Regions from separate parts of the Homo sapiens genome. Here region 1 is linked to region 2. The links come from fine-mapping of genetic effects on gene expression. A gene starts in region 2. The other region holds a variant in brackets. All regions are shown on one strand. Distances are from middle to middle.

What was found.
Region 1: its variant is fine-mapped to the expression of HMCES in monocytes (TOPMed, PIP 0.98).

Annotation. Positions count from the first base shown.
Region 1 is chr3:129,318,315-129,333,506 of GRCh38, forward strand. H1-10-AS1 (H1-10 antisense RNA 1) reads left to right here. Exons shown (of 5, transcript NR_026991.1): 3 at 229-323; 4 at 5,036-5,290; 5 at 5,867-6,255. It also overlaps the pseudogene NUP210P3. Among named protein-coding and RNA genes, the nearest start is that of H1-10, 9.6 kb to the left of the region's middle. RefSeq lists an enhancer at 10,390-10,449. The variant G/A (reference allele first, on the strand shown) is at 3,784.
Region 2 is chr3:129,271,907-129,287,843 of GRCh38, forward strand. It overlaps HMCES (5-hydroxymethylcytosine binding, ES cell specific), which reads left to right and starts at 6,964. Exons shown (of 7, transcript NM_020187.3): 1 at 6,964-6,999; 2 at 7,804-8,009. The coding sequence starts at 7,827. COPG1 (coat protein complex I subunit gamma 1) reads left to right here. Exons shown (of 24, transcript NM_016128.4): 19 at 1-3; 20 at 338-509; 21 at 901-998; 22 at 2,932-3,070; 23 at 3,288-3,386; 24 at 5,388-5,867. The coding sequence ends at 5,518. MIR6826 (microRNA 6826) reads left to right here and starts at 240; the gene lies at 240-337. RefSeq lists silencers at 6,819-7,168, 7,179-7,568 and an enhancer at 7,989-8,118.

The DNA.
Region 1 (15,192 bases), 46 kb after region 2:
TATGATTTGGATCTGTGTTCCCACCCAAATTTTAGGTTCAGTTTTAATCCTCAGTGTTGGAGGTGGGTCCTGGTGGGAGGTGATCAGATCATGGGAGTGGATTCTAATGGTTTAGCACCATTCCCTCGGTGATGTCCTCATGATGGTGAGCTATCATGAGATCTGGTTGTTTGAAAGCGTGTTGCACCTCCCCTGACTCCCTCTCTTGGTCCCGCCCCTGCCATGTAGGACACCTGCTCCACTTCACCTTTTGCCATGAGTAAAAGCTCCCTGAGGCCTCCCAAGAAGTTGATGCCCTGTGCTTCCTGTACAGCTGCGGAACCGTGAGCCAATTAAACCTCTTATCTTTGTAAATTACCCAGTCTCAGGTAGTTCTTTATAGCTTTGTGAGAATGGACTAATACAAGGGGCTTGAGCTTGGGTCTTTTGAAAAGTTAAAGGGTGAGCAGAAGCGATACCCCTGAAGGAGTCCCAGCCATGGGCAACAGGGCCATCGCTTGGCCTTTTGTGCAGCCACCGCAGGGGGGAGGAGTGGCATGCTGGACATGCCACTCTGGAGCTGGCTGCAGCCACAGGCTGGGCCAGGGACACTCCTGGGTCATCTGTGCTGGAGGAAGGGGATGCTCTAGTGGAGACAAAGGGACAGGGTCACGGAGGAAGGCGGGACCCAGGTGTGGCCTCCTTCATGACATCTGAGGAGAGGAGATTCGAGAGAGGAGGGCTGGGCACCGCAGCCAGTACAGCCACTCACAAAGTAGAGCCGCAGTCCGGGCACTGAGGAGAGCGGCCAGGCTCGCAGCCACGGTGCCCCGGGGGACCTGGCTGGGACTGCAGGGGAGAAGCAGTCAACACAGGGCTGGAGCCCTGTGGGCAGGGCAGTGCTGTCCAGTCCCGGGGGGAGGACACGGAGGATGCAGCTCAGACCCCACACCAGCCTTGGTGGGCACACGGGCTGGGGGCCGGCTCCTCAGCCTGTGAGGGGAGCGGGGCTTTTGTCAAGAGGGAGGCTGCCTGTGGCGCAGGGCTCAGAAGACTAATTCTAGACTTTGGGAGCTGGCATAGACTAAGTGGGATCTTCCACTTGCCCTCATGATATGGTAGAGGCAACTGAGGCTTGAGGAGGGGGTTAGCCAGGAGACCAGGACTCAGGCTGGGGTCTTGCAGCCTTCAGGGTGCCTCTTACCCCCACACTGCTGGTCATCCCTTCTGCATTACCCCACCAAGGAAACTGTAGGTGGGGAAGGTCCCAGGTCCTCAACCAAAAAAAATGGCCAAATATGAGAAAAGGAGCTTCTGGAAGTGGCCAGGGCCTAGCAGAGACCAGGGCAAGACCATGTGCCCAGCACCTGAGTCGCGCCCTTCCCTGGGCCTGGCCAGTCTGGAGGAGGCTCTGGCTTGTGAGCAGTGGGGTTTCTGGGGTCGGAATCTGGAAGGGGCTCTGTGGCTGCTGGGCTCTCTCTCTCCTCCTTATCTAGGGGATTGTTCAGTCCTGGGGCTGCAAACACCACCAGTACCCTGATGATGCAGTTCATTTCCCTAGCCCGAGGTCAGCCTCTCTCCCGTGCAGACCCCAGCATCCCGCTCCTCTTGCCACCCTCACCTGGAGCCTGGGTGTGGCCAACACAGACCCTGCTCCTCCCAAACTTTTGCCAGTGATTCTGCCCAGAGACAGGGACTGCTCCCTGATTTCCCTACTCTCTTCCAACCCATGGCTTCCTCCCCATCTACCCCAGAACTGGTCCCACAGCTGCCGAGCCCCCACCCTCTCTACCCTTTCCACCCAGCCTCCTGTTCTGTCCGCACAGCCCCAACACAGAAGTCTGAGTGGTGGGTCCTGGCTCTGCCAGAAGGTCTCTAATGGCTTCTCACCAGACGTAGGGTAAAGTCTCCCAATGCCTTTGCCACTGGCCCCTACCAAGGCTCTGACCGCAGCTCCCCAGCTGAGCACTCAGCCTCATAGCCTTTTTTGCTGCCCACACATACCCAGAGGGTTCTCAGGACCTGGGACTTGCTGGGGTGGCCCCATGGCTGGCTCCTTCCCTGGCCGGCCTCCCTAGACCCCTCCCTAGGGCTCCTACCAGAGCACCCTCCCTGCCTGGCTCACAGCCCCTGCCATCTAGTATGTCCGTTGAGTTGTGGGCTGTGAGCTAAGTGCAGGGTGGGGGAGGTCATGCTCCTAGCTGTACCAAGGCGGGGTGGACACAGTGCGCTCCCGACACAGACACACCTGCAGCAGCAGCGGATGGGAGGATGGGGGTCAGGAGCTCCTGGCTGGGCTCTGACCCGGGCTGTCCTTCAAACGCTGGGTGTGATCCCTTCCCCACCACCACTGCCCAGCCTCAGTCTCCCAGTTTGTATAAAGGGGCTGGATGTATGGAGTCTGAATGATCCAGCTCGACAGTCTGATTCTGGGCTTCCAGACACACACTCACCATTCACACCTACAGTTCACACACACAGACACCTACTCACTCACACTCAGATTTACCTTCACACACGCTCACCATTCACAGCCACAGTTCACACCCACAGACACCTACTCACACATATTTACCCTCACACATGCTCACCATTCACACCCACACTTCACACTCACACTGATACCTACTCAGTCATGCTCACACACACTCACACCATTTACACTTACAGTTGACACACGTACACATCACCTACTCACACACAATTTACCCTCCTACTCACATGCTCACACACCATTCACATAGTTCACATTCATACACACACCTACGCATCCATTCACACATATATGCACACACACTCATACCCACACATTTATCCTCACACATACCATTCACACCCACAGGTTCACACACATTCACCTACTCACACCTGTCATCCTCTCATTCACATGCTCACAAAATGGTCACACAGTTTACCCCTCACACCCACACACTAACCCATTCACACTCACAGATTCGTACACATACACCTACTCAGACACATCATCCACCCATTCACGTGCTCACACACACATGTTCACACAGGCATGTGCCCTTCACACTCATAAGCTCACCATCACATACCCTTCACACCCACAGGTTCACACACGCATTCACATGCTCCCACTCACTTCCCTCACACACATATGCTCACTGATTTACACAGCCACTCGCACTTATACATACTCGCTCACATTCACACAGGCTCACCCATTCACACACACTCGACACATTTACCCTCACATTCACCCACTCACCATTCCCACTCACCAGTTCACATGCACTCACCCAAGCTCACACTTGACCACGGACACACCCTCAAACATAGGTGCTTACACACAAGCCAACACACACTCACCTAGCCATTCATACTCACGTGCACCTATACCTTCACACACATCCTCACATACCCACACAGCTCTACACATACCCACTTTCTTACACATTCACACACATACCTATAGACACATTCAAACACACCCATTCTCACATCCTCAAAAACACCTGTGGCCACTTACTCACTCACACACAAGGTCGATGCCAACTGCAGGGAAAAACGTGGTGTCAGCCAGGGTCTGGCTGGAGGCTCCCCCTGCCCTCGCCCTCTCTGTCCTGTCTTGTTTCTGCCCTCATGTTCTGGGGACCTCGAGACTGACACACACAAACACACATGCCCATGACAGAGGCCCCAGAATCTGGTGGCACCTCGCAAAGCTCAGGCTGCAGTGGGCAGAACCCCTGGCCACCGAGCCAGCTGCAGGGCGCTGCCTCCCTGACCAGACACAAGCTCCCAGCACACACCCCTGCCCACTCCTCATCATCTGCT[G/A]GGAGGTCAGCGACCGCACCTCTGCTCCCAGACCAGAGGAAACAACCCTAGAACCCAAGGGGCCAGGACGGTGACACATCTGAGCAGAGAGCCAGTGCCAGTGCATAGAAAGGACACCTGTCACCACTCCATGGGACAGCAGGACTGATGTGCCCTGCACTGACCACGAGGACTCGAGCCCTGTCTAACGCGAGTCCTGCTGGCTAATGCCACGTGCAGGCAGGAAGATCAAAGCAGTGACACGTCCCATGTGATGGGGTTGGAGATACTTATGCCTTGAATTTGAATGTTTTCTCTAAGAGCATATATCTATATATCTATATCTATATACAGATATATATAGCTTTCAAAACATAACTTTTAGAAAAAGAAATGTTAATGAAATTCAAATCTGTATTCCAGAATATTCCAGAATTTATTGTATTTTCTTTTCTCTATTTTTTCACTATTGGTTTTTGTTGGGCTTTTTCCTGATTACAAAAAATGCATTGCTATGATGGAAACCTCAGGAAATAACAGAAATCATAAAGACTGTGATTTAAAGTAGGCCACTAGAGAGTAACGTTAAAAGTAACAGAATGAGGCCGGGCGTGGTGGCTCATGCCAGCACTTCGAGAGGCCATGGTGGGAGGATCACTTGAGGTCAAGAGTTCGAGACCAGCCTGGCCAACATGTGAAACCCTGTCTCTACTAAAAATGCAAAAATTAGCTGGACATGGTGGTGTACACCTGTAGTCCCAGCTACTTGAGAGGCTGAGGCAGGAGAATCACCTGAACCCAGTAGGCAGAGGTTGCAGTGAGCCGAGATTGTGCCATTGCACTCCAGCCTGGGTGACAGAACAAGACTCTGTCTCAAAAAAAAAAAAAAAAGTAATAGAATGGACGAAAAGCCACAATCCTATGGAAACACCAGAGGAATGCACCCAGAAGTGGGGGTCTCATGTAGCTTTATTGTGTACTGATAAGTACTTGTCTTTGGTTGCCATGGAAACGTCAAGATGTTGGGATACAGGGTGATGGGGATGTGAATTTCCACCTCCTGCTGGTTCCACACAGGCACCCATAGTGTGTGGACCCCTCTATCCTACAAGGGGTGAGGGTGCCACACATCACTATGACAACCATGTCATCAGCAGTCTTTCCCAGTCACTGGACCCCCACCCCTCCCTGGGGATCAGGCCACAAAGGTGGATTTTGTGGGAGAGTGGAGAGGAAGTTTCCAGACACCCTGCCACCCTCTCGTTCTCCACAGGGATGGCTTTCCGTGGCTTTGCTACAGCCACTCCTGGAAGTGCTGCCTGACTGAATCCTCAGGGCACCCCGGCAGGATGGACGTGGTGTACCCCCTACTTTACAGATGGGGAAACTGAGGCTTGAGAGCTAAAGCAGCCCACCCAGCTCCCAGAGATGAGGAGGCCGACTCTGGCAGGAGTCACTGTCGGTGCATGGGCATTTCTTCCTGTTACAGCCTGCGGCCCCTTCCAGGCCGGGAGGCCTTCTGCGCAGGGTAGGAAAATGGGAACACCCAGGCCGATTTTCCGATCAGCAAAGCTCTGCTCCCTAAGGCTGATGGGCTTCTTAAAGACAAAGGAAAAAAGAACCCAGGATGTAAGTAGCCCAAACAGGCAAAGGGACACTGGTGGCCCAACTCGACCCATGGCCCTCCTGGGCTGACATTTCTGCCTACAGAGGAGGGCTTCATAGGCCAAGGCACGACGCAGGGGAGACACCAACTTGCCTGGTCCACCACAGAGGTGAGGGCCGCGTCAATGGCCATCTGTCCCCTCTTTAGTGCCCTGACGTGATGGTATGACCCATTCTGGGAGGCCGAGAGCACCTCAAAGAACTCAGCAGGAAGCACAGTTTCAATTCAGAAGTTCTGGAAGGCGAGGCAGGACAGGTGAGAGGTGCTTCTGGGGTGACTCCAGAAAGTCAGAGTTTGGGCAAGAAGCTACAGAACTGAAACCAGCAGCCGGGCCAGGCCAAGGGGCCCCCTGGTGTTCAGCAGCCTCCACTAGCAGCAGACGGGCAGGTCAGGCCCTGGAACAGAGCTCTAACCACTATGGCCTTTGTCCCCACCCAGGGCACCCTCCCTGCATGGCCCGATGACCTGCACTCCTGTTTCATCTCCCCGTGTGGCACCTGGGGCAGCTTGGAGCCTACCAAGGTCTCAACAAGGAACCAGTAAATACCAAAAAAAGGACATCACGTCCCCTACAGCTAACTGCAAATGGTGACCATCCCAGCCCTTGTTTGATAACACAAGCAAAGCAATGGCTTCTTCAAGGACACCGAGAGGAACCTCACCTCTTTCTAAAACCTCCAACACAGGGCCAGGCGCGGTGGCTCATGCGTGTAATCCCAGCACTTTGGGAGGCCGAGGCAGGTGGATCACGAGGTCAGGAGATCGAGACCATCCTGGCTAACACGGTGAAACCCCGTCTCTACTAAAAATAAAAAAAATTAGCCGGGCGTGGTGGTGTGCGCCTGTAGTCCCAGCTGCTCGGGGAGGCTGAGGTAGGAGAATAGCGTGAACCCAGAAGGTGGAGGTAGCAGTGAGCCGAGATCACTCCACTGCACTCCAGCCTGGGCAACAGAGCAAGACTCCATCTCAAAAAACAAACAAACCTCCAACACCACCTGGAAGGGCCTGGAGGCACTCACTGATGAGCCTGGAATTTCTCACAGGGGACAGAGAGGTGGCCAAGGCTCCTGCACATTTCCCCATCTGTCTGACACCCCTTTCCAGAACCAGAAAGCGTGCTGAGCTCGGCCTCTGTCACGCAGGGTTCCAGGTATTTCTGGGGCTCAGCAGGGAGAAGGCCAGGACGTGCTCCCTGACTCTCGGCAGGGCGGGAGAAGAATGAATCCTCTGAGGTCCCCAGCTTGGGGAAAAGGGGGTGGGAGAGTGGCGGGCAGAGACCTCCTCCGTATCCCCCTCTCCTGAAGCCCTGCCGCTGTGGCAGCCCTACAGGGACTACAGGGCTCCAGCCCTACAGGGACTCTGCGGTGGGGCGGGTGTGCAGGCTCACAGGCTCTGGAAATGCCCCAGGATGCCTTGGCAGTGTCTCCCACAGACCCAGGAGCGCCACTAGAAACAGGACCCTTCCTCAGTCATCCTGCATGGGGGCTCCTGTTGCTTTGGGGGCTGCTTTCCAGCAGCTGCGTCAGACAACGACCCACCTCATCCCCCCAGCCAGGACCTGAACAGGCACTGACGTCAGATACGTAGACCTTGTTGCTGAACTTGTCAAAAACTTCAATGGTGATTTCATACAGGCGGCCGGTCTCCAGCACCCACCTATCACCAGGGTGAATGGTGAACCCTAAAACAGGCAGGGGGAGCCTGAGCACTCAGGCCTCAGGGGCAGCAGGGTGGAGGAGGATGGGACCACCACCCTCAGCACAGGGGCCCTCAGCATCCACATGGGAAGCCCCACTCCACCCACCTGTAGGCCCCACACCACCCACCTGCAGGCCCCACACCACTTACCTGGAGGCCCCACACCACCCACCTAGGGGCCCCACAATTATGGCGCTGGCCTCCTCCACAGAGAGGGACCTGTTGCTGAGGAACAGATGCCTGATGCCGCCTTCAGCCCTGAGTCCTGAGCTGACCTCCCGAGGACCAAACCTGGACTCATCCCATTCTATCTGAACAAGGCTCCTTCAAACTTGTTCCTGTTCCTCAGTGGGTCTACACTCAGAATCCTAGCAGCTCTGTCCTTAACACACAGCAGGTCTATGCTCTGAAGTGATAATAGATCTATAGTGTTCACAGTAGAACTAGTCTGAACCTTCAGGGGGTCTGTGCTCTGAGGAGGGATGGACATAGACTCCAAGAAAGTGATGATTCTGGAAAAGGAACGCGTTGTTAAAGTTTGTTGATCAAACCCAGACACAAGGTCTGTCAGAATCTACCACAGCATTCCCTATCAGCCCCTCCCACTGGGGCCAACACTGAAGAAATAAGGGGTGTCCCGTTAGTCAGGGCTGGGGCTACCTAGAGACATGTCCCTGCAGCTTCCTACATCAGATCTGCCCATGTCCTTGTGAAAAATGCAGATGCTTGGCCCCTGGCCCAGGCTGTGTCTGCAAGAAGCCTGGGAAACTCCATTTTATCCACCTGCATACGTGATGGAAACACTGACATGCAAGACCAGCCGCTGAGTCCACACAGGAACAATGAGGCCTGAGAGATGAGGCAACAGGCCCAAGAACACAGCCCAGCCGAGGCCGGACCAGCAGCGCCCTCGCCTCCCTGAGGCTGCCTGCTCCTGTCCCACCTCCCTGGCCTACCACCCAGCTCTGGGGAACGATTCTCCATGACTGGTCCCTTAGCCCTGGGGACCGGACGGCACCACGTCTCACTCTCCCCAGATCCCAGCTTGGGGAGATGTCGGGGACGTGGTGTAGCATGGAGTGTGGGCTGCTGGGCAGGCTGACTTCAGGGATCCTTCCCACGCAGCCTCCCACTTCAGCCTGCATTTACAAACGAGCCCACTGTTCCCCTGCACAAGAGCAATCTGCCGCCATGCTTCCATCTCCCCAGCATCTGCCGGTGCCGGGCCACGCCGTAATTTATTTCCTCGCCTGGTTACTCTAGGTGTCACATGTCAAATTGACCACAAATCCAGGACAATCCAGCTCCAACCTGCCTTGGTGTCTGGGATTTCTGTTATCATTCGGCTCAGGTGCAGAGCTGCCTGGAAGCTTGGGGGGCCTGACATGGCAGGGGACGGGGCTGTCAGAAGGGGACAGGGAACCAGCATCCCCTCAACATCCAACATGCGCCAGGCCCAGAGAGGGGCCCTGAGCGGATCAATCTGCCGAGCTGGGCATGGGATCCCCTCCAGCTCTGTTTCCCAGGGCAGGAGGCTGAGGCTCAGGTGGGTAACGTTCCCTGGCTAAGGCCACAGGCAGGAAGTGACAAGGCCAGGACTGGAATCCAGGTCTCTGACTCTCCGGCTCGTGGTCATAGTTTTACAAAACACCAGAAACTGCAGAGCTGGTCCAGAAAGCTCTGCCTCCAGGAGGGCGACTCAGCTCTCAAAGGCATCAGGACGTGAGGACGTCTGCCTGGAGTCACCGTGAGCTGAGTTCTGGAGAAGGTTGTGATGGAGGAACCACCACGTCCCCATCATCCCCTACGGCCCAGAGCTGGACTTTAATGGCGTAATTGTGGGCGGATCACGAGGTTAGGAGATCGAGACCATCCTGGCCAACATGGTGAAACCCCATCTCTACTAAAAATACAAAAATTAGCTGAACGTGGTGGGTGCCTGTAATCTCAGTACTCAGGAGACTGAGGCAGGAGAATTGCTTGAACCCGGGAGGCAGAGGTTGCAGTGAGCCGAGATTGCGCCACTGCACTCCAGCCTGGTGACAGAGTGAGACTCCATCTCAAAAAAAAAAAAAAAAAAAAAAAAACCAGAAGATGGTAAACTCCCCAACAAAGGACTTATAATTACAAAGGGGTGAGAAGGTGACTTCCCCAGATCAGAAGCAAGTGGAAGAATGGAGTCTCACTTCGGTGATATTCCTGCCAAAGACGCAGTGCTCAGAGCCTGGCCATGAGGGAACAGCAGATAAACCCAAAATGAGAGCTGCTCTACAGATAACCAGACTGTCCTCTTCACAAGTGTCACGGTGTCCAAAGTCAAAGCCCAGGAGGCTGTCCCGGGCTGACAGAGACTAAGAGAAACAGGACACATGCGGCAGGTGACTCAGGGCTGGGGTTTTTCTTTTTGCTGAAAGGGATAAAACTGGGACAAATGGCTGGGCACGGTGGCTCATGCCTGTAATCCCAGCACTTTGGGAGGCTGAGGTGGGCAGATCATGAGGTCAAGAGATCGAGACCATCCTGGCCAACATGGTGAAACCCCATGTGTACTAAAAATACAAAAAGTAGTTGGGCGTGGTGGTGCACACCTGTAGTCCTAGCTACTCGGGAGGCTGAGGCAGGAAATTTACTTGAACCCTGGAGGCAGAGGTTGAAGTGAGCCGAGACTGCACCACTGCACTCCAGCCTAGTGACAGAGGGAGACTGTCTAAAAAAAAAAAAAAGGGCTGGGCCAGATGTGGTGGCTCATGCCTTTAATCCCAGCACTTTGGGAGGCCCAGGCGGGCAGATCACGAGGTCAGGAGATTGAGACCATCCTGACTAACACAGTGAAACCCCGTCTTTACTAAAAATACAAAAAAAAATTAGCTGTGTATGGTGGCGCGCGCCTGTAGTCCCAGCTACTCGGGAGGCTGAGGGCAGAAGAATCGCTTGAACCCGGGAGGTGGAGGTTGCAGTGAGCCAAGATTGTGCCACTGCACTCCAGCCTGGGCGACAGAGTAAGACTCTGTCTCAATTTAAAAAAAAAAAAAAACCGAGACAAATGAGCAAACTCGAATGAGGTCTGAAGATGGTCGGCATCAGTGTTCGTTTCCTAGCACCATAACTGCACGGTGGCCATGCAGGACAACGTCACTAATGGTCGTAAAGCACTTGAAAATCATCAGGGTGATGGGACATGAGGCTGGCAACCGGCTTTCAGGTGAGTGAGGGAAACCTCTTTTTGGACTGCGCTGGCAGATTTTCTACAGGCCTGAAGTTTCTGCAAAAGGAGACTCAAACATGAAAATGAAACTTTAAAAAAAGGCATCGTGCTCTTTAAAAATCACATAGCAAAACTAGAGGCAAGCAGCACAGTCAGACCTGGGGCCTGCACCAGCGCCGGCCAAGGACCGGTGTAGCTCTGCTCCTGCCCTGTCCCACAGGTGGCAGCACTCGCCGTGCAGCCAGTGAACCCTGGACTGGAGGCTTATGCATCTCAGGAACTGAACTGCTCAATTTCTTTTCTTTTCTTTTCTTTTTCTTTTTTCGAGACAACGGAGTCTTGTTCTGTCGCCCAGGCTGGAGTGCAGTGCTATGATCTCGGCTCACTGCAAGCTCCGCCTTCAGGGTTCACGCCATTCTCCTGCCTCAGCCTCCTGAGTAGCTGGGACTACAGGTGCCTGCCACCATGCCCGGCAATTTTTTTTTTTTTGTATTTTTAGTAGAGACGGGGTTTCACTGTGTCAGCCAGGATGGTCTTGATCTGACCTCGTGATCCGCCTGCCTCAGCCTCCCAAAGAGTTGGGATTACAGGCATGAGCCACTGCACCCGGCCAAACTGCTCATTTTCTAACTACACGTAAATAGCCCTGGGGCCCGTGGCTCCCACATGAGAGTGCAGATCCACATGGATCTGAGTTCAGACTCCAGCTCTGCCCTCCCCGAGCTCAGACAAGCGGCTTGGCCTCTTCAGGTCTCAGCCTCTACGACTACTCAATGGAGAGCACAGTGGTGTGCAAGCTCACGTGGCTGCTGGGAGGATAACACAGGTCAAGAAGTTTAAGGCATCCATCTCACAATGGGTCTGTCTACACCACTGTGGGCGACTTAGCCTGTTACACCTGAGACCGGCGGGCACAGCTGGCCCATGCCCCAGCAGAAACCTGGCTGCCCTTTAACTGGTCCCCCAGTTACGAGGACAGAACATGAAGGTTCTGCTCCAAGTCCTGAAAGTACAGAGGGAGGGGCCGGGTGCGGTGGCTCACGCCTATTATCCCAGCATTTTTGGAGGCCGAGGCAGGCGGATCACGAGGTCAGATCCAGACCATCCTGGCTAACACAATGAAACCCCGTCTGTACTAAAAATACAAAAAATTAGCCAGGCATGGTGGCATGCGCCTGTAATCCTAGCTACTCAGGAGGCTGAGGCAGGAGTATCGCTTGAACCCAGGAGGCGGAGGTTGTAGTGAGCCGAGATCGTGCCATTGCACTCCAGTCTGGGCAACAGAGAGAGACTCCATCTCAAAAAAAAAAAAAGAAAAGAAAGTACAGAGGGAGAGGGCCGACTTCTCACCCAGCACCCCGCACTCACTAGATGGACTTTGCCTCCAAGATCAGGTATCTGCCTATGAGAGAGTTGTGTCTCACCAGATTCCTTCCCCTGGAGGTCAACACCCAAAAGTCAAACCAAAATCTTTTGTGTATCATTCCCAAGAGGTGAAACATAATCAAAGGCTCTGAAGTTTGCTGTGGCAAAGGCAGGAAAGATCTGGTGCTTTGAGAAAGACCATCTTTAAATACTATGATGGCAAACACAGCACACTCAGAGCCCAGAGGCACCATCTCTGTATGCCGTTAAAATACAAAAAGAACAAATCAGATTTTACACATTTATTTCTGATTTCACAGCTCCCTTCCAAGGCTTCATAGCCTCAAGTGTAACCCTCGTGCTCCCCAGCAGCCTCTCCCATTGGGTCCTACCTGGAGTGGAGTCCCCTACCTCCCGTCTTCATCCTCACTGCTGCGTGCACCACATGGTGTCCAGGGGCCACAAACATCAGCAAGAAGGGTATTCCAGAGAGTGACTCACCCATCCCTCCTACTCCATTGAGGTCACATTAGATGACACAAGATCATGCTTCTCTGTCCTCTGGGCTCTCTTACCCTCCCTGGGCTCTATGGAGTTCGAGACCATCAATGAGGCGTTGCTGACAATTGTAAACCATCAAGTGAGAAGGTCTCCTTTCCTCCTCTCACTTCCCCATTTTTGCTGCAATGTTACAGCTCTCGCTACAGACTTACCTACCTGGAATTCTAACCGTGATGGAAACATTGTGAGGTAGATGAGCTCATTCAACAGACCTGGGCTGGGCTCAGAACAGCTACCCAAGTGTTCTGTGCAGAGGGAAATGCTCTCTGTGCTGTTGAGTGCTATGGTCAGTGGCAAATAACTCCTAGGGACACATGAAATGTGGCTGTTGAACACAGTGTTTTCTTGCACTCTAATTAATTGAATGGATTAATTAAGTTAGTAATAAGGAGCACCTCCCGGTAGTGACTGCCACACAGAAGAGCGCAGCTTCAGAGATATAAAGATGAAGAAGACATGATTCTTCTACCCTGGTGTTTCCTTGCAGAGTAGGTGTCTGCTCTGATCCAATCATCCATTTATGGGAGCTTCCTGGGCACAGGTACAGGGGCCAGGCCCTCTGTGAGGCCTGGGGATGCTGCAACGGGGAGGACAGCATCCAGGTCGAGGGTTCCCAGCAGGGGCTGCACTTGTACACAGAGGTGAAAAGCACGGACCAGCAAACCCTGTCCAGACAGGATCAGAGCAGCAGGGACAGAGGGGATGGGGACAACTTACTGTCTTCAGGAGCCCACGCTCATCTCCTCTGACCCTGGATCAGAGCCCGAGAAAGCACCTGGATTAGTGTGGGGCCCAACAGGCTAGACAGGGTGAGGATGAAACCCTTCCATGCCTGAGCTAGATCTCAGCCCAGCGATGTGCTTATCAGAACCTCTGGGAGGACTAAGTTGGGCTGCCCAGGGCTGAGCTCTGGGATGACAAGGAATGAGGAGGCCTCAGTTCTTGCCCTGGCAGTGACCAGCCATGGCTAGGATTCACTCTTGCTTAGATGGAGCACAGAAATCACTGTGCAAATGGCTGTGGCTGGATTCAGGTGATGATGGCGTGCTGACTCTTCTGAACTTTAAAACCCTGGAATCCATCCTCCCCCTCCCATCCACACATGGCCTGGACACTCTTGTGACTTCCCTCAGCCCCTCTGTACTCCTCCCTCTTCAGGTCCAGCCCAGGGCCCTGAGCCCTGCCTTCTCCCATGGAGTCCATGGGTGGCTGTCTCGGAACTCCTAGAGCTCTTGGTCTTGGTGTCACTCATTTGAACATTTAATCCCTCACAGCAGATGTCTCTTCAGGCACCACTGGGAAACTGTTCTAGACAGTGAAGGTTCTTGGAGAATCTTAGTATGAGAAACATGTTCCTTCTGGGGAAAGTGATATTTTTTCTAAATTGAGCAGTCTCACTTATTTTTGTTTTGTGGAGAAAAATTTTGACACCCACAGAGCAAGCAGATTCTATTAAAACAAACTGTGTCACACAGTATTCATCATCAAAGGGATTCTGAAGCCATGATTTTGCCTCATGTGATATTTTATGCTTACTTCAACAAACACCTTGACTTGTTTCCTTGAAAAGGAGTTCAGAAGCAACAAGAACCTATTTCAATTAGTGGGTCCTACCAGGCCGAGTGGGGATCGCCCTGCAACCCCCGTGGCTGAGTTTATCTTTCTCCACCTTGCAATGCACACCCTACTGTGTCCTCCTCCTAGGAAGGAAGCCACGTCTCCACCCTGAGGCTGGGTCCCTGAAGAAGCCCCTTGTTTCTCCTTCATTCTATAGTGTGTGTTGCTCCACCACCCAGAAGCCATGATTGGTGTAAGTAACGGGAGAGATTATGCACATGGAAATGGAATTACCTATTTTCGGCCACATTATCTGAAGTGGAATAGTAGACCTCAGTTGAGAAAGCTGGAGGGAAATTGCCCCAGTTTGTCTAGAGTCTCCTCGTTTCTCGGAGTCCTCCCAGAACTAAGTGAGGGGCTTACTGTAGAAAGAGGCCCAGCCTGGCAGTCCTTGTGTTTACGATGGGGAGGGTTAATTCTGAGGCTTCCTGTAATAAAAAGGCTTGGGGAATGTGGAGACGTATAAGGATGAAGCATCAATGGGGAGACTCCTCCTCCTTGAAATCCTAAAGTGTTTGAGGAGCAAGGACTCTGGGGTTCCTGCAGTTTCTGTCTTGGCAAGTGTTCCACACAGAGGGGCTCAGGAACAGGATTAAAATCCCAATTGATGCCAAACTCATAGTAGAAGCTTAGAGTCTCTCCCAGGAAGTAGATAGAGGTGGGAAGAAAGTGCATGGGATTCGGAATCAAAGGGTTAATCTAAACCTGTCACCTAATGGTAGTATATTTTATTCTATAGATCAAATAATTATTTGAATTTTATAACAATACTCAAGACATGCAATTCTTGTTTAATGTATTAAAAACATTTAAATGTTTGGGAGATCGAGCTGGGAGGATCGCTTGAGCCCAGGAGTTTGAGACCGGCCTGGGCAACATAGCAAGATTCTTGTCTCTTTAAAAAAAAAAAAAAAAAAGCAGGCCGGGTGTGGTGGCTCACGCCTGTAATCCCAGCACTTTGGGAGGCCGAGGTGGGCAGATCACGAGGTCAGGAGATCGAGACCATCCTGGCTAACATCATGAAACCCTGTCTGTACTAAAAATACAAAAAATTAGCCGGGCATGGTGGTGGGCTCCTGTAGTCCCAGCTACTCAGGAGGCTGAGGCAGGAGAATGGCGCGAACCCAGGAGGCGGAGCTTGCAGTGAGTGGAGATTGCTCCACTGCACTCCAACCTGGACTGCCTCAGTGAAGGTGGCAGAAGTCATGAAATACACAGCCATTGAAAATCTCTGGGATGATGAGGTCCAGAGATCTCATTTGAGATCAGGAGTTCGAGACCAGCCTGGCCAACATGGTGAAACCCCATCTCTACTAAA
Region 2 (15,937 bases):
CAGGTGAGCAAGGTGGGCTGAGGCCCTGCTGGGGCATGCGCCCAGGGAGTTGTCCCAGGTCTGGCAGGTCCTGTAGGGTCATGGGTCCCCACACTGCATTGGTTGGGAGCCCAACTTGATGACAGAATCTGTCCCCAACAGGTCGGTCTCTCATATCTCTTGACTCGGGACATCCATGGCTCCCGATTGTCAGCATGAAGACAGGGAACCTGGGGCAGGGGGACTGGGATGGGAATCACCTTGGTCAATAGGAAAGAGGTGGGACCTCCTGGCTTTTCCTCTGCAGCATGGCTCGGACCTAGTGCAATGTTTAAGCTCCCCTCTCTTTCCTGTTCAGTTTGACTGCACAAACACACTCAATGACCAGACCTTGGAGAATGTCACAGTGCAGATGGAGCCCACTGAGGCCTATGAGGTGCTCTGTTACGTGCCTGCCCGGAGCCTGCCCTACAACCAGCCCGGGACCTGCTACACACTGGTGGCACTGCCCAAAGAAGACCCCACAGCTGGTGAGCCCCTCTCCAGATACCACCCTATCCTCCTGGGAGCTCATGGGGTCAGGAGGAGGTGGGCGGCTGGGCACCAGCTGTTTGCCTTCTATTAGAGCTTCAGCTCCTTGATTTCAGTCCCAAGAAGAAGAATAGCTGAGTCCCAAGTGCTCTTCTTTAAAAATTTTTTTTTTTAAAGAGACAGGATCTCACTAGAACTCATGACTTTCCTGTCCTACAAGGTGGCACCCTCTGTCCAGCTTTGTGGGATTGGATGGCTTGTTGCTGCTACTAATAACATAGCAGGGGCCTAGAAAGCAGGCTGTGACCCCTGCCTGCTTGTCCCCTGCAGGAGGAGCCCATCCCCTGCAGGCTGGGGACATCCTAACTACCCAGCCTCTCTTCCCCACAGTGGCCTGCACATTCAGCTGCATGATGAAGTTCACTGTCAAGGACTGTGATCCCACCACTGGGGAGACTGATGACGAAGGCTATGAGGATGAGTATGTGGTAAGATCCTGGTGTCAGGAAGCTCAGTTTTGTGCTGAGGCTGCAAAGCAACTCCCTTCAGGAACTGACAGTGAGACTGGAGCTGTTTTTGGCTTTTTAGCTCTTTAAAATTTTATTTTTTTATTTTTATTTTTTGAGATGAAGTTTCTCTTTTGTTACCCAGGCTGGAGTGCAGTGGCGCGATCTCGGCTCACTGCAACCTCTGTCTCCCTGGTCCAAGCGATTCTCTTGCCTCAGCCTCCCAAGTAGCTGGGATTACAGGCGCCCACCACCATGCCTGCCAAATTTTTTGTATTTTTGGTAGAGATAGGGTTTCACCATGTTGGCTAGGCTGGTCGCGATCTCCTCACCTCAGGTGATCCACCTACCTTGGCCTCCCAAAGTGTTGGGATTACAGGCGTGAGCCACCGCGCCCGGCCTAAAATAACTTTTTAAACTTATGGAAATACATGTTCATGTGTAAAAAGAAAACTTGGGAAATACAAAAACAAAATTCAAAACAAAGTATGAACAACAGGAAAACATTACTCATAATCCTTAGAGTTATTTTTGGGGGGAAGTGGTATAATTGAAATCATTCTTACAGTGTAGACCTTGCTATTTTAAAACCATAGTGTATTTTCCAGTATCATTACAAATACTTCATAAACACAATTTTTTTAGTGGATTTAAAATACTGTTATATACTATGTCAAAACTTGATTGACTTTTCACTCCTTTAATGTTGGGCATTTGGGTTTCCATATTTTCACTATTTATATTGCTGCATTAAATATCCCTTTAGATACAAATTTTTATCTGCATTTTAGATTATTTCTTTAGGATAGATTCCTAGAAGGAGAATAGTTGGGTCAAAGGGTAAGCATGATTTTAAGACATTTTGATTCCTCTTGTCAAATGCTTTCTGGATAAATTTGACCTGTTTGCTGTGCTGGGCAGTCCTTTCATGCACTGGAATAGCCCTTCTAAATTCTCCTATCTTAGCTCGGTGGAACTAAGTACAGGATCCTTCTGAGGTCTGACTTTGGGGCAGTGGCTCAGGGCCATCTGAGTGCAGACCATTATGCTCAGCCTGTGGATGGGGACTGTTAGAACTCCTCCTGACTAGAGGGACAGTCACAGTGGAATACAACTGACATTCGCCATTGTGTCATCCTAGAGTCACAGTTGAGGATGGATGGACCTTCCTTGAGCTGGAAATGACCCCGAGGCAGGAGCTGCTCTAAGACCAAGTGAGCTCCTTGAGAGAGCTGGGTCTGTTTGAGCCCATCCAGAGATGAAGAAAAAAAAAAAAGAGAGAGAGAGCTGGGTCTAAGTTGTATTTATATACACTGTAAACATCCACAGGAGTAGGGCCTCAGTGAAAATCTGATGGGAGAATGAATGGGGAACCTTCATGTAGACTCAGTGGGAGTATTATGTGTCAAGTTCAGGGAAGACACAGCTGAAATGGAGATAGAGATTCAGGATCTGTCAAATCCAGAGGACACAGCTGGGGTAGGAGGTTTCTGCTAGTTTCTGCTGAACTAGAAACAGCTGCTGGTCCTGAAGAGCTCATCATCCCCTAGGAGGGACAGGCATAGGAAGCAGACCTCTGAGAATGCTATGTAATTCCCTGCATGCCAGGTCCTGGAAGCACTGACACTAGGCAGGCTTAGAAGAGATGTGATCTCACAGCAGGCGGCTCTAGGCTGAATTAGTAGATTGGTACTTGGGATTAGGGCGTTTTCTGTTGAAGGGATACCATTTGCCTTTGGGCACCTCAAGGATAGGTACCTGGTCAAGTTGCTCTATGTCCCCAGAGTCTAGCACAGTCCTCAGTGCCGAGCAAGCACCTGTGGAAAGAGTTGCAGGAAGGGATGTGTGGATGAGTTCAGAGCAGAGGCCCGTAGGTGTGTAGATGGGTGCCTGATTTCTACCTCCATCTCTCCAGCTGGAAGATCTGGAAGTTACTGTAGCTGATCACATTCAAAAGGTCATGAAACTGAACTTCGAAGCAGCCTGGGATGAGGTAGGGGATGAATTTGAGAAGGAGGAAACGTTCACCTTGTCTACCATCAAGACACTTGAAGGTAAAATCCTGGGAATGCCATCTCTGGCCTAATTACTGTTCAAGATCTTTGGCTACTATTGAAGTGCTCATCCCTTTTCTCTCCAAGGATCCAGGGCCATGTCTGGAGCACATATGTCAAATGCCACTTCATTAAAAGCCCTTCAGAACATGGGGGAGTGGTGGTGGCACAAAGGGCAGATAAGATGGCTTAACAATATTGGGATTTCTCATTACAGAGGCTGTGGGTAATATTGTGAAGTTCTTGGGAATGCACCCTTGTGAGAGGTCAGACAAAGTGCCGGATAACAAGAACACCCACACGTTGCTCCTGGCTGGTAAGTGGCATTTCTAGATGGGGAGGGCCTGGATAGCTTACAGCCTGGATGCCACTGGATCCTGGGCTAAGGACTCCACTGTAAATATGGGGAGTCAAAATTCACAGCATTTAAAATTCACAAAGTATAAAATAATCTGCAGCGAAATGTTTCCTCCCTACCTTGGCTGCCAGCCATTCAGATTCCCTTCCGAGAAGCGACCAGTGTTACTATTACAAACAATACTTGTATAACCTTGCGGTTATTTTATGGCTATAAAAGCTAATAGGAACGCATTTCCTTTTTTTAACTCAAATGTTTATGTACAAATGGTATATATATTGTCCTCCGATTTGCTTTTCACTTTACATTGCATCTTAGAGATCTTCCCCGTCAATATGTAGAGCTTCCTCATTCTTTTTCTTTTAATTGTGGTAAAATATACATAAAATTCACCATTTCGACCATTTTCAAGTGTATGGTTCAGCGGCATTAAGTACATTCACACTATTGTAAAACTATGACCACCATCCATCTCCAGAACTTTTTTCATCCCAAACTGAATCCTCATTTTTTTTATAGTTGCTTAGTATTCCATTGTGTGGATGCACCACATATTCTATGGAACAGCCACTACTGATGAACATTTAGTTTGATTTCAATCTCTTGCTATTACAGATGTTACAGTAAATAATCGTGTACACACACACACACACACACACACACAGTTTACTTTGCATGTGTACACTGAGAATATCTGTAGGATAAATTTTCCAAGGCATCACCAGTTCAAAGTGATTTGTGTTTCTCATCTTGATAAATAACTCCAAGTTGCCTTCCATAGAATTGTATACCTTTCTTCCTACACTGTGGACAACATAATATGTTACCACACTTTATGATCTTTTCCAGTCTGTGTGGACAATGATATCTTAGTGTAGTTTTTGTATTTTCAATGAAGTTAAGTATCTTCTTAAATGTTGAGGCATTTGTATTTCCTTTTCTGATCATTGTCTTCATATCCTTTGTCTTATTTTCTACAGGGTTGGCTGAGTGTACCCACACTCATTCTCCTTCCCAGATTATTTACTAGCAAACTCCAGAAATAGCATTTTATATGTAAATCCTGTATCTGTATGTTTCTCTAAGAGAGAATGACCCCTTCCCTTTTTTAAAGGACAATACAATTATCATACCTAAAACAGTTAACAAAAGGAAATGGGATGATTTTTTTTGGCTGAGTGTTTATAAACAGGGTTGAAAGGAGGCTCTGCTTCAGTACCCTGCCTACAGCTGACAGTTTGTAGCCACATTGAAACAACCTAGTCCCCTGGGTCTTGCAGACACCTGCCCTGTGGTTTTCTCGTGGTGGGGCTGTCCCCTTCATTTGTGCTCTCAGATTCAGTCAACGTGCAAGAGCCTCTGTGACATGAGATATAAGCCTTTTATGTCCATCAGTTCATTTGAACTTAGCAGAAGCCTGAAATATGGTATTATCATCCCTGCCACTTTGTAGTTGAGGATACTGAAGTCCTGAGAGACAGTGACTTTCTTTTTTTTTTTTTTTTTTGAGACGGAGTCTAGCTCTGTCACCCAGGCTGGCATGCAGTGGCACAATCTCTGCTCGCTGCAACCTCCGCCTCCCGGGTTCAAGCGATTCTCCTGCTTCAGCCTCCCGAGTAGCTGGGATTACAGGCGTCCACCACCATGCCCAGCTAATTTTCGTATTTTTAGTAGAGATGGGGTTTCACTGTGTTGGCCAGGCTGGTCTCGAATTCCTGACCTCATGATCTGCCCACCTCAGCCTCCCAAAGTGCTGGAATTACAAGCGTGAGCCACCGCGCCTGGCTGAGAGACAGTGACTTTCACAGTGAAATCCCTCACTCAGGGATTTCAGCCCAGCTCTCCTGCCCGTTTCACTACACCAGAGCTGCCTTCATGGGTTGCTGCAAATGCCATCCTTAGCCTGCCCTGTACAGTCCCTTCTGCTGTATATATCTGTACTTCTCTCTTCCCTTCTAGGTGTGTTCCGGGGTGGTCATGACATCCTGGTGCGCTCCCGGCTGCTGCTTTTGGACACAGTGACAATGCAGGTGACAGCCAGAAGTTTGGAGGAGCTGCCAGTAGACATCATCTTGGCATCTGTGGGATAAGAGGCCAGCCTGCATAGGACCTCATACCCTTCCCCAACACTACCTGGAAGTTGTGCCTTCCTCATGAAACTGGCAGAAACCCCTTCCCAAGCTTCTGTATTGAAAAACAATTAGGAATCATTGCAGATTTTTTTTTATTCTGCTCCCACCTCCCACCCGGGACTACTTGCTGGTGACTTTTTTTTTTTTTTTTTTTAAATAGGGGATGATTTTAGCTTGTCCTAAATCTTGCTGTCCACCCTTCCAGGAAAGGGACATTGTAAATGAATAAAACATTCTCAACTCCTCTTGAATCTATCCCCCAAGAAACCATCTTATCCCTGTAATAAATCAGCATGTATTTATTGAATGATTGCTACTTCTGCAGACTCATGCTTCAGGGCTCCACCTTCCCCTTCAAGGCCTCCCCTAAAGAGGCAGAACACCTGCCCTGTCCCCCTTGCACCCACAGCCCTTTGGCTGTTGTAGTCCTGTGAGGCAGGACCCTCTCCCCGTCATCGCTGTCCCAGCACCAAGCCCAGGGGTGGGAGCGGTAGAGGGTGGTTGAGTGAATCAGCTAACAGGCAGAGTTCACACTCCCTCCCGTTCGTGCTTCTTCACAACGCATCCTCCTTTGATAGTCGATAAATGGAGGCTCCAAAGGGCTTGGGTCCTGTGTCTGATCGTTCCAGCATCTGGTCTTACATGGAGTGTGCCCTGGGGTTTCTGCTCCCTGTTCAGTTCAGCGAATCAGCATAGGCGAACAGCCCTCTAGAGCATTCTCTGTTGGTTGCAGATGAAGAATCTCCGGTTTAGGTCCCAAGGGGAGCAGGCTTTTAAACTCAAGCCAGGCTATTTTACCAACTTTGAGGCCAAAGTACACCCGAAAGGGCTGTTTTAAAAATCTGGGCCTCACCCTTAGAGATTCAGCTGAGGGGCTGGGGCAGGAAAGGCTTATTCTAGTGCCCACCAATGTTTGAGGGCGAAGTGCGCGATTCCTGGAAGTTCTTCTGACTTTCATTTCTTCAGTGTTCCTCCATTTTTGCCTCGCACTGTGAGGCAGCTGGCAGGACTGTGAAGTAAGGAGTGGAGTTTCCTGGTTTCCCGCCTTCCATGACCCTGTGCCCTAGACTCAGCGCGGCGGGAACCTTCCCTGCCAGCCCTGAAACACGCTGGGGGCGGGGAGGAAGGTTAACCCCGCCAGGGAACGGCCAATATGGAGGAAAGTGGAGTCCCGAGAAGCTTGGGATCGATATGTCTCCCAAGGCAGTCACTGTCTCCTGGGGAAACGGGAGAAAATTCATCCCAAACCGGAGGGGAGAAGACGCCGCCTCCGGGGCCCGAGGGCACCGCGGGAACCAAGGGCCCTTGGGGGCGGGGCCTGGCGCCGGGAGCGCGGGCTGAGGCGGGGCTGACGTGAGGGGCGGTGACGCGGGTGGCCAAAGCGGAGCGGAGCGGGGGTGAGGAGAGTCGAGGGAGGTGACGCGCGCTGCCGGGGCGAGGTGAGGGGAGGGGAGGCGACGCGGGCGGTCGGGGTATGGCGAGGGGAGGGGAGGGGAAAGGAAGCGACGCGAGCTGACAGAGGGGAGCAGAGGCCCGAGCGGACGCGAGGCGACGCGGAGAGGGCGGCCTGGGCCGAAGTGAGGCGACGCGGGGCGGCGGAGTCTGAGGGCCGGAGCGGAGCGGAGGCGACGCGGGGAGGGGCGAGGGATCGCGGCCGGTGGCTGGGGGCCACCTGCTCCCCGAGCACCGGCCCCCGCTCCGGGGAGCAGAGTCCGGAGCGGGATCCGCGGCCCACAGGTTCGCAGGTCGGGCCCGGGGACGCTGCGGACTAGCGGGCGGGAGGCGGGGATTCTGCACCCCGGCCCCGGGCCGTCCAGTGGCCGCCCTCGAGGTGACCGGTTGCTGGCCGGCGTGGGTCGCTGACCCCAGCGGGGACTGGGGGGAAGGACGGGGAGTTGGGGGCACCAAGTCACCCGGAGGAGGCGACCCCAGCTAGCTGCGCTTGCCCTGCTTCGCTGGACTGTGAAGCCCCCTCCGCTGCGGCTCTTCCTGCGCTCAGGCAGGCATTTGCAGAGCTCCTCTCGGGACTTGCCTCAGTGCCCTGCACGGAGCTGGGCAGTGGGCTCAGGGAGCGAAGCAAACGGGCACATCCTTGTCTTTGTGGGACTTTTTGGGGAAGACTTTAGACGGTGGTCACGGAGGGGCACGGCCCTGTGGGAACGGAAAGAGAAGGCGGGGACTCAAGGAATAAGACCTAATATTTGAGATACGTAAGCCTTTTCCTTACGTTTTGTAATTTAAAGGTTGCGAGGGGCGGTGTTGAAGAATGTGTGGGCGAACATCCTGTCACTTACCTAGAGATGTTCTCACGAGAGCTTGCGCCTACCAGGATCGGCGGGGCCAGCAGCGGCTCCCGGAGTGGAGGGACCCTGATAAGTACTGCCCCTCTTACAACAAGAGTCCTCAATCCAACAGCCCAGTGCTTCTGTCTCGACTGCACTTTGAGAAGGTAACCAGCATTGCACTATGCTAGCCCCTCGCCCAGCCTCGTGATGGTCATCTCCTATTTGGTTTGGTGTGTGCTCAGCCTCTTGGGATGACATTAAAAACCAGCCTTTACTGATATATTCTGACTTCCAGTTGAGAACCTCTCTTGGCCTCATGAAAGAAGTTTTATCAGTGGCTTCTAACACTGATAAAGACGTATTTTTCAGGCTCAATTTAAATGCCTTTGCTATACATGGCATACTAGCCTTAATATATGCCAAATTTATATGAGCTTTGTGTTTTAAAATAGCAGCTTTCACTGATCATCAGGGTCATTGGAGTATCTTAAAAATATAATAAAAAAATTTAAGGCCAGGTGCCATGGCTCATGCCTGTAACCCCAGCACTTTGGGAAGCCGAGGTGGGAGGATCACTTGAGCCTAGGAGTTGGAGACCAGCCTGGGCAACATAGGGAGACCCCATCTCTACAAAAAATAAAAAAATGAGGTGGGAAGATCACTTGAGCTGGGGAGGTCGAGGCTTCATGAGCCATGGTTGTACCACTGCACTCCCACCTGGGTGACAGATCAAGACCCTGCCTAAAGAAAAAATTTAAAAAAATAAAAAATTTAAGAATATTTCTATGCCCTTTACCAGGCCAGCTTAATCAGACTTCTCTAGGCCTAGGACAGGCTTAAGATCAGTTAATTTAAAACACTTCTGATGTTTCTTGAGCATTGAAAAGTTTTATTCTTTCTGCTTGTGTTTTCAATCTTTTTGTGTTTGTCTTTTACTAAGGCTAGAAACACGTATTTGGTTTGGTTATCTGAAGTTTAATTGCATTCATTGTGTTTATAGTATTTATCCCTGTAGTGTTGGAATTACCAGTCACTTACATTCATATTTTAGTTTTTTGCCTTATCTCCTGAAAGTGTGTGTGTCTTTGTATGTGTGTGTAATAAAAATGCTTCGTTCTAGAAAGTAATAGTTTCTCCATGTCTTAAATATTTTAAATGACCTTGACATGTTTTTAAAAATCGTGATTGTTGGCTGGGCACGGTGGCCCACGCCTGTAATCCTAGCACTTTGGGAGGTGGAGGCGGGCGGATCACGAGGTCAAGAGATCGAGACCATCCTGGCCAACATGGTGAAACCCTATCTCTACTAAAAATACAAAAATTAGCTGAGTATGGTGGCACGCACCTGTAGTCCCAGTTACTTGGGAGGCTGAGGCAGGAGAATCACTTGAACCTGGGAGGTGGAGGTTGCAGTGAGCTGAGATTGCACCACTGCACTCCAGCCTGGCGGCAGAGCGAGACTCCATCTCAAAAAAAAAAAATTGTGATTGTTTCCTTCCTGAATTTTGACTGTATTTGATTCATAATGCTGAAATCACTTTATAAAGTTGATTATACCTCTGGTACATACTCTTTAAACTTTTGTGATAATATGATAGTCAAAAAGGACTCATTTCTGCATTATAGGGAATCACATCATTTTGAAATAAAGATAACAGGCTGGGCATGGTGGCTCACACCTGTAATCCTAGCACTTTGGGAGGCCAAGACGGCTGGACCACCTGAGGTCAGGAGTTCGAGACCAGCCTGGCCAACATGGTGAAACCCCGTCTCTACTGCAAATACAAAAATTAGCTGGGTGTGATGGCGGGCGCCTGTAATCTCAGCTACTTGGGAGGCTGAGGCAGGAGAATCGCTTGAACCCGGGAGGCGAAGGTTGGGGTGAGCCAAGATTGTGCCACTGTACTCTGGCCTGGGCAACAGAGTGAGACTCCATCTCAAAAAGAAATAAAGATAACAAATAATGGCTGGGCACGGTGGCTCACGCCTGTAATCTCAGCACTTTGGGAGGCTGAGGCGGGGCAGTGGGATCTCTTGAGGTCACGAGTTTGAGATCAGTCTGGCCAACATGATGAAACTCTGTCTGTACTATAAAAAAAAAAAATGTGGAGGTTGCAGTGAGTCGAGAATGTGCCACTGCACTCCAGCCTGGGTGACAGAGCAAGACTCAGTCTCAAAAAAAAAAAAAAAAAAAAAATCAAATAATGTTCTTGGTTGAATGAAGCCATTTATATGACATAGTTATTTTTGTGTCATTTTTAGAGGATGCATACTTCCCTATTGAAACTTTTTGTTTTAAATGAGAGGGGAATCAAAATAAAATATTCTGGAGAACCTTGAAGGGGAAAAGAGAGCATAAAACATATTTCAAAGGAAAGCATAACTTAGAGTGAGAATAGAGAGCAGGATTAAGTGTATGAGCCTGGCCAGGCCTGGTGGCTCACGCCTGTAATTCTAGCACTTTGGGGGAGGCTGAGGCCAGAGAATTGCTTCAGGCCAGGATTTCAGGACACCAGCCTGAGCAAATGAGACCCTGTTTTTAACAAAAAAAAAAAAAAAAAGCCTTAGTCATTTATATGACCTCCTTAGAATTATAGAAAGTTAGCTGGAAGAAAAATTTGTCTAACAGATGTAAAGATAGAAGTATACATAGATTATGACTTGTCCTAGGTTACCTAATCAGTGAGGGACAGAACTAGAACTGAGATCCAGACCACCGTCCCCACTCCAGTGGATGCATCCTGGAACCAGGAATGGGGAAGGTGGAGCCACTAGCAAATACAGCCCTCATTTGGGCCAGTGGTATGAATTTGCTGATATAGTATTTGATTTCACATCTCTAACAAGTTTTATTAAGATTGCTATGGTTTCTTAATTTTGATAATATTTGATATCTCATTTTTCTCAGACCTATAAATTATAAAGCAAAATTAGAACCATTTTAGCAGTTCATTCAAATCATTAACAGCCTGCATATGTATATAGATAGCAACATTTTCATTTGAAACCACAGATTTGCAAATTACTTCCTGTTTCATTTATCCACCCCAGTGCTACCAGGTGTTCTGTTCAGAAGTCCAAAAGGGTAGAGGAAAGATGACTAATATTGAGCAATGGTCTTAGTATTTTGGCTTTTCAACTACTTTCTATTCGTCATTCTCACATTTGGATTTGGTTTACAGTTGTCAAGGGTACACTCTCAGCGCTGATCAGTGGAATTTGTGAGAGCAGAATTCTCAACCTTGACACTGTTGACAGTTTTGGCCAGGATAATTTTTTGTCATAGGGAGCTATTCTGGGCGTTGTAGAGCGTTTAGCAACATCCTCTACCAGCTAGATGTCAGTAGCATCCTCCACAATAGCATCCCCCAGATCAGAGCAACCAAAGGTATCTCCAGATACTGCCAGAAGTCTCTGGATGGTGGGGAGGGGTGTGTCAGAATTGTCCCGTACTGAGAACCACAGATTTTTTCAGTATTGTTGTCTTGCAAATTTCTGATGAAAGATCATTTAGTTGACCATTGCGTAATGTTGTCTCATTCTCATTTATGCACTGAGCTGGGGGTCCTTCTGCTTGGAAGACTTTTTTTTTTTTTTGGAGACAGGGACTTGCTGTGTTGCCCAGGCTGGAGTGCAGTGGCGCAATCATGGCTCACTACAACCTTGACCTCCCAGGCTCAAGCGATCCTGCTGCCTCAACCTCCCCAGCAGCTGGGATCACAGGCTTTTCCTTTTGACATTTTGAGGGGGAAGTTCTCACTGTGTTGCTCAAACTGGTCTCAAGACTCTTGAGCTCAGGCCAGGTGCAGAGGCTCACACCTGTAATCTCATTACTTTGGGAGGCTGAGGCAGGTGGATCGCTTGCAGTCGGGAGTTGTAGACCAGCCTGACCAACATGGTGAAACCCTGTCTCTACTAAAAATACAAAATTAGTCGGGTGTGGTGGTGCATGCCTGTAATCCCAGCTACCTGGGAGGCTGAGGCAGGAGAATCGCTTGAACGTGGGAGGCGGAGGTTGCAGTGAGCCAAGATCGCGCCATTGCACTCCAGCCTGGGCAACAAGAGCGAAACTCTGTCTCAAAAAAGAAAAATCAACCTTGAGCTCAAGGGATCCTCCCCACTTGGCCTACCAGAGTGCCAGGATTATAGGCTTGAGCTGCCAGAAGGCAAATTTGATTCTGGAAGAGAAAGAGGATTTATGAAATCTCTGTTTTCAACTGTTCTTTCTCACAAACACACACAAACAGTCCTCATTATTCTTAGATTCCATATTTCCAAATTCACCTACTCACTAAAATTTATTTGTAACCCCTAAATTCATACTCACTTTGCTTTTGCAATCATTGGTGCACATACAGAGAGCTGACAAATTTGAGTACCTTGATGTTTCCAGCTGAGGTTGATCGAGGCAGAGCTCTGCCTTCTTGTTTCATCTCTTACGTTATAAACAAGTATCTTTTTTGCAGCCAGTTTAGTGCCATGTGTGATTTCACTGTTTAAAATGATCCCAAGCATAGCACTAAAGTGCTGGCTGGTATTCCCAAGCTAAAGAAGGCTGTGATATGTCTTAAAAAGAAGATATATACATTGGATAAGCTTTAGTCAGGCATGAGTTATAGTGCTCTTGGTCTTGAATTTAGTGTAAATGAATTAAGAGTAAGTTTAAATTAGATGTCTTTAAACAGAAACACACATAAAACAAGGTCATATATTGATCAGTTGATGAAAGTGTCGTCACCAGATGCTGTTAGAAACATAACCTTGCATTTCCCTAAGAGCAGCAGTTCAGTACTCAAAGCAACTTTATGAAATCTAACTACTGCAAATAAAGGGAATCAACTGTTTGTGTGTATATATATGAAAAGAGAATTGGCCGGGCGCAGTGGCTCACACCTGTAGTCCCAGCACTTTGGGAGGCTGGGAGGCTGAGGCAGGCGGATCACTTGAGGTCAGGAGTTCGAGACCAGCGTAACCAACATAGTGAAACCCTGTCTCTACTAAAAATACAAAATTAGCTGGGCGTAGTGGCACATGCCTATAATCCCAGCTACTTGGGAGGCGGAGGCAGGAGAATCGCTTGAACCTGGGAGGCAGAGGTTGCATTGAGCTGAGATCGTGCCACTGCACTCCAGCCTGGGCAACAGAGCGAGACTCCATCTCAAGAAAAAGAGAATTAATGGATACAGCAGGCAGGATTCTGGAAGAAGCAGGACTGGATTTTATCAGCAGCACTATGGAGGGATTAGCTTTTAAACAAAAGGAAGCCCTTCTCCTGAGACTGCGACTACTGATGATTCCTTTCTTCAGATTCCATTCTCTCCTGACTTTCTTCGTTCTACTTTTATCTTAGTAGGTACTTCTACTTGGAACTCTGCTTTTACCCTAATTTCTTCTTTTAACAAAATTTTTTGTACCCTCAGGTTAAATCCTGTACATGATATACTCTCTAAGAAACTTTACCTTCATGGCATTAATAGTCATCTTTTTATAGACAATTTTATGATTTGTTTTTAATCCTTACCTTAGAAAAATACTATACTACAATTTGAGTGCCTACTCCATGCCACACATTTTAACTATATTATCTTTCATTCTTGAAAATTATCCCACAGGGTAATTATTGTTTGTTCTAATTTTTGGATAAGGAAAGTTGAAGGCCCAAGAAGTTGAGACTAGTCCAACCTCATAAGTAGCAGAGAAAGGATTTTTTTTTTTTTTGAGATGGAGTCTTGCTCTGTTGCCCAGGCTGCAGTGCAGTGGCACAAACTCGGCTCACTGCAAGCTCTTCCTCCCGGGTTCACGCCATTCTCCTGCCTCAGCCTTCTGAGTAGCTGGGACTACAGGCACTCGCCACCACGCCCGGCTAATTTTTTTTGTATTTTTAGTAGAGACGGGGTTTCACCGTGTTAGCCAGGATGGTCTCGATCTCCTGACCTCATGAGCCACCTGCCTCCCAAAGTGCTAGGATTACAGGCATGAGCCACCGCGCCCGGCCCAGGATTTTTTTTTTTTTCCATCAGAGTCATAGAGTGCAGTGGCACAATCTCAGTTCAATGCAACCTGCACCTCCCGAGCTCAAGCAATTCTCATGCCTCAGCCTCCCGAGTAACTGGGGTTACAGGCACACGCCACCACACCCAGCTAATTTTTGTATTTTTAGGAAAGATGGGGTTTTGCCACGTTGGCCAGGCTGGTCTCAAACTCCTGACCTGAGGTGATCCGCTCGCCTCAGCCTCCCAAAGTGCTGGGATTACAGGCGTGAGCCACCATGCCTGGCTCAGAGAAAGGATTTTTGAACCAGGATCTCCTTACAAAGACCTTGATCTTTCCTCTATACCAGGGATTGGCAAACTACGGTCCTCAGACCAAATCTGGCCTACTGCCTGTTTGTATAAAGTCTTATTAGACCACAGCTGCTATGGTTTGAATGTTTGTGTCCTTGAAAAATGCATATGTTGAAATCCTAACCCCCAAGATGATGGTATTAGGAGATAGGACCTTTGGGAATCAAAGCCCTCATGACTGGGATTAGTGTCCTTATAAAAGACACCCCAGAGATACCATGTGACAACATAGTGAGAAGGCACCATCTGTGAACCAGAAAGTGGGCCCTCACCAGACACCAAATCTGCTGGCACCTTAATCCCAGCTTTCAGAACTATGAGATAAATCATATAGTATCACTCATGCCACATTCTGTTGGTTACAAGCCCGTCCAGATTCAAGGGGAACGAACATAGATTCCCAATTCTCAATGGGAGGAGTGTCAGATTTTGCAACCATTTTTTGAAAACTGCCACAGACTTCTCACTAGTATCAGAAATTCAACATATGATCTTCATAAAACATTTCATCAGCATTTTTTCTTCTCTGTTCAGTAGTACCATCATTATTTCACTCTTCTGGGCTTGAAAACTTAATCATCCTTGCTTTTTTTCATCCAAATCCATTTGTACTACAATTTCTTTTTATTTTTTTTTAAATCTTTTGGATGTCACTGTTTTTCTCACTGCCATCACCAGACCCCTGAACCATTGTAGTAACACCCCAAAATGCACTCTCTGCTCACTGGTCTCTCCCAACCCAGAGTGTACTGTGCCATGCAGAATAATGTGTATGTGCTGCTTAATCTGTAGATTTCATCAAATTATCAAGGGGCCCATTACTTAAAAAAAGTTTGACAACCATGCGTTGGGAGTCCCCAAGACTGCCCCCATATTTAGAGATTCATTAGAAGGGCTAAGCATATAAGGCATAGTGTGTCTAAGGTTTATTAGTAAAAGGACGCAGAATAGAATCAGCAAAGGAAAAAGACACTAGTAGAAATCTGGAAAAAGTCATGCACAGGTTTCCTTATGTTTTCCTTCCTGTGGGAGGATACTGCAAGCATGTTACTTTCTCCAGCAACGAAAAATGTAGTAATGTATATGTACAGTGTTTTTGTTTTTTTTTGTGGGGTTTTTTTGTTTTGTTTTGTTTTGTTTTTTTTGAGAGAAGGTCCTGCTCCGTGGTCCAGGTTGGAGTGCAGTGGCTCAGTCACAGCTCACTAGCAGCCTCAACTTCCCAGGCTCAAGTGGTCCTCCTACCTCTGCCTTCTAAGTAGCTGGAACTACAGGTGCATGCCACCACACCAGAATAATTTTTTTTTTTTTTGGTAGAAACTGGAGTTTGCCATGTTGCCCAGGTTAGTATGTACAACGTTTATGCCCAGAGAAACCCATTAGAGACTCAGGGTCCGAGGTTTTTATTGGAGGCTGATCATGTAGGCACTCTACCAGATACCTAGCAGGTACCAAAATTTCAGACTCCCAGAAGGAAAACAGGTGTTGGCATAAACTTTATTGTTTACACAGACTAGGCGGAATAAACCACCCTTATGAGTTGGGGAAAAGTGGGAATACTCTCAAAATCTAGTTCTGAGTTGTTGAGGGCCAACCTTGTATATAGGTTTTCCTAAAAATAGCATCCTCCAGTGCTTTGAGAGACCGAGGCAGGAAAATCACTTGAGCCTAAGAGTTCGAGACCAGGCCAGGCACAGGGGCTCATGCCTGTAATCACAGCACTTTGGGAGGCTGAGGCGGGTGGATCACAA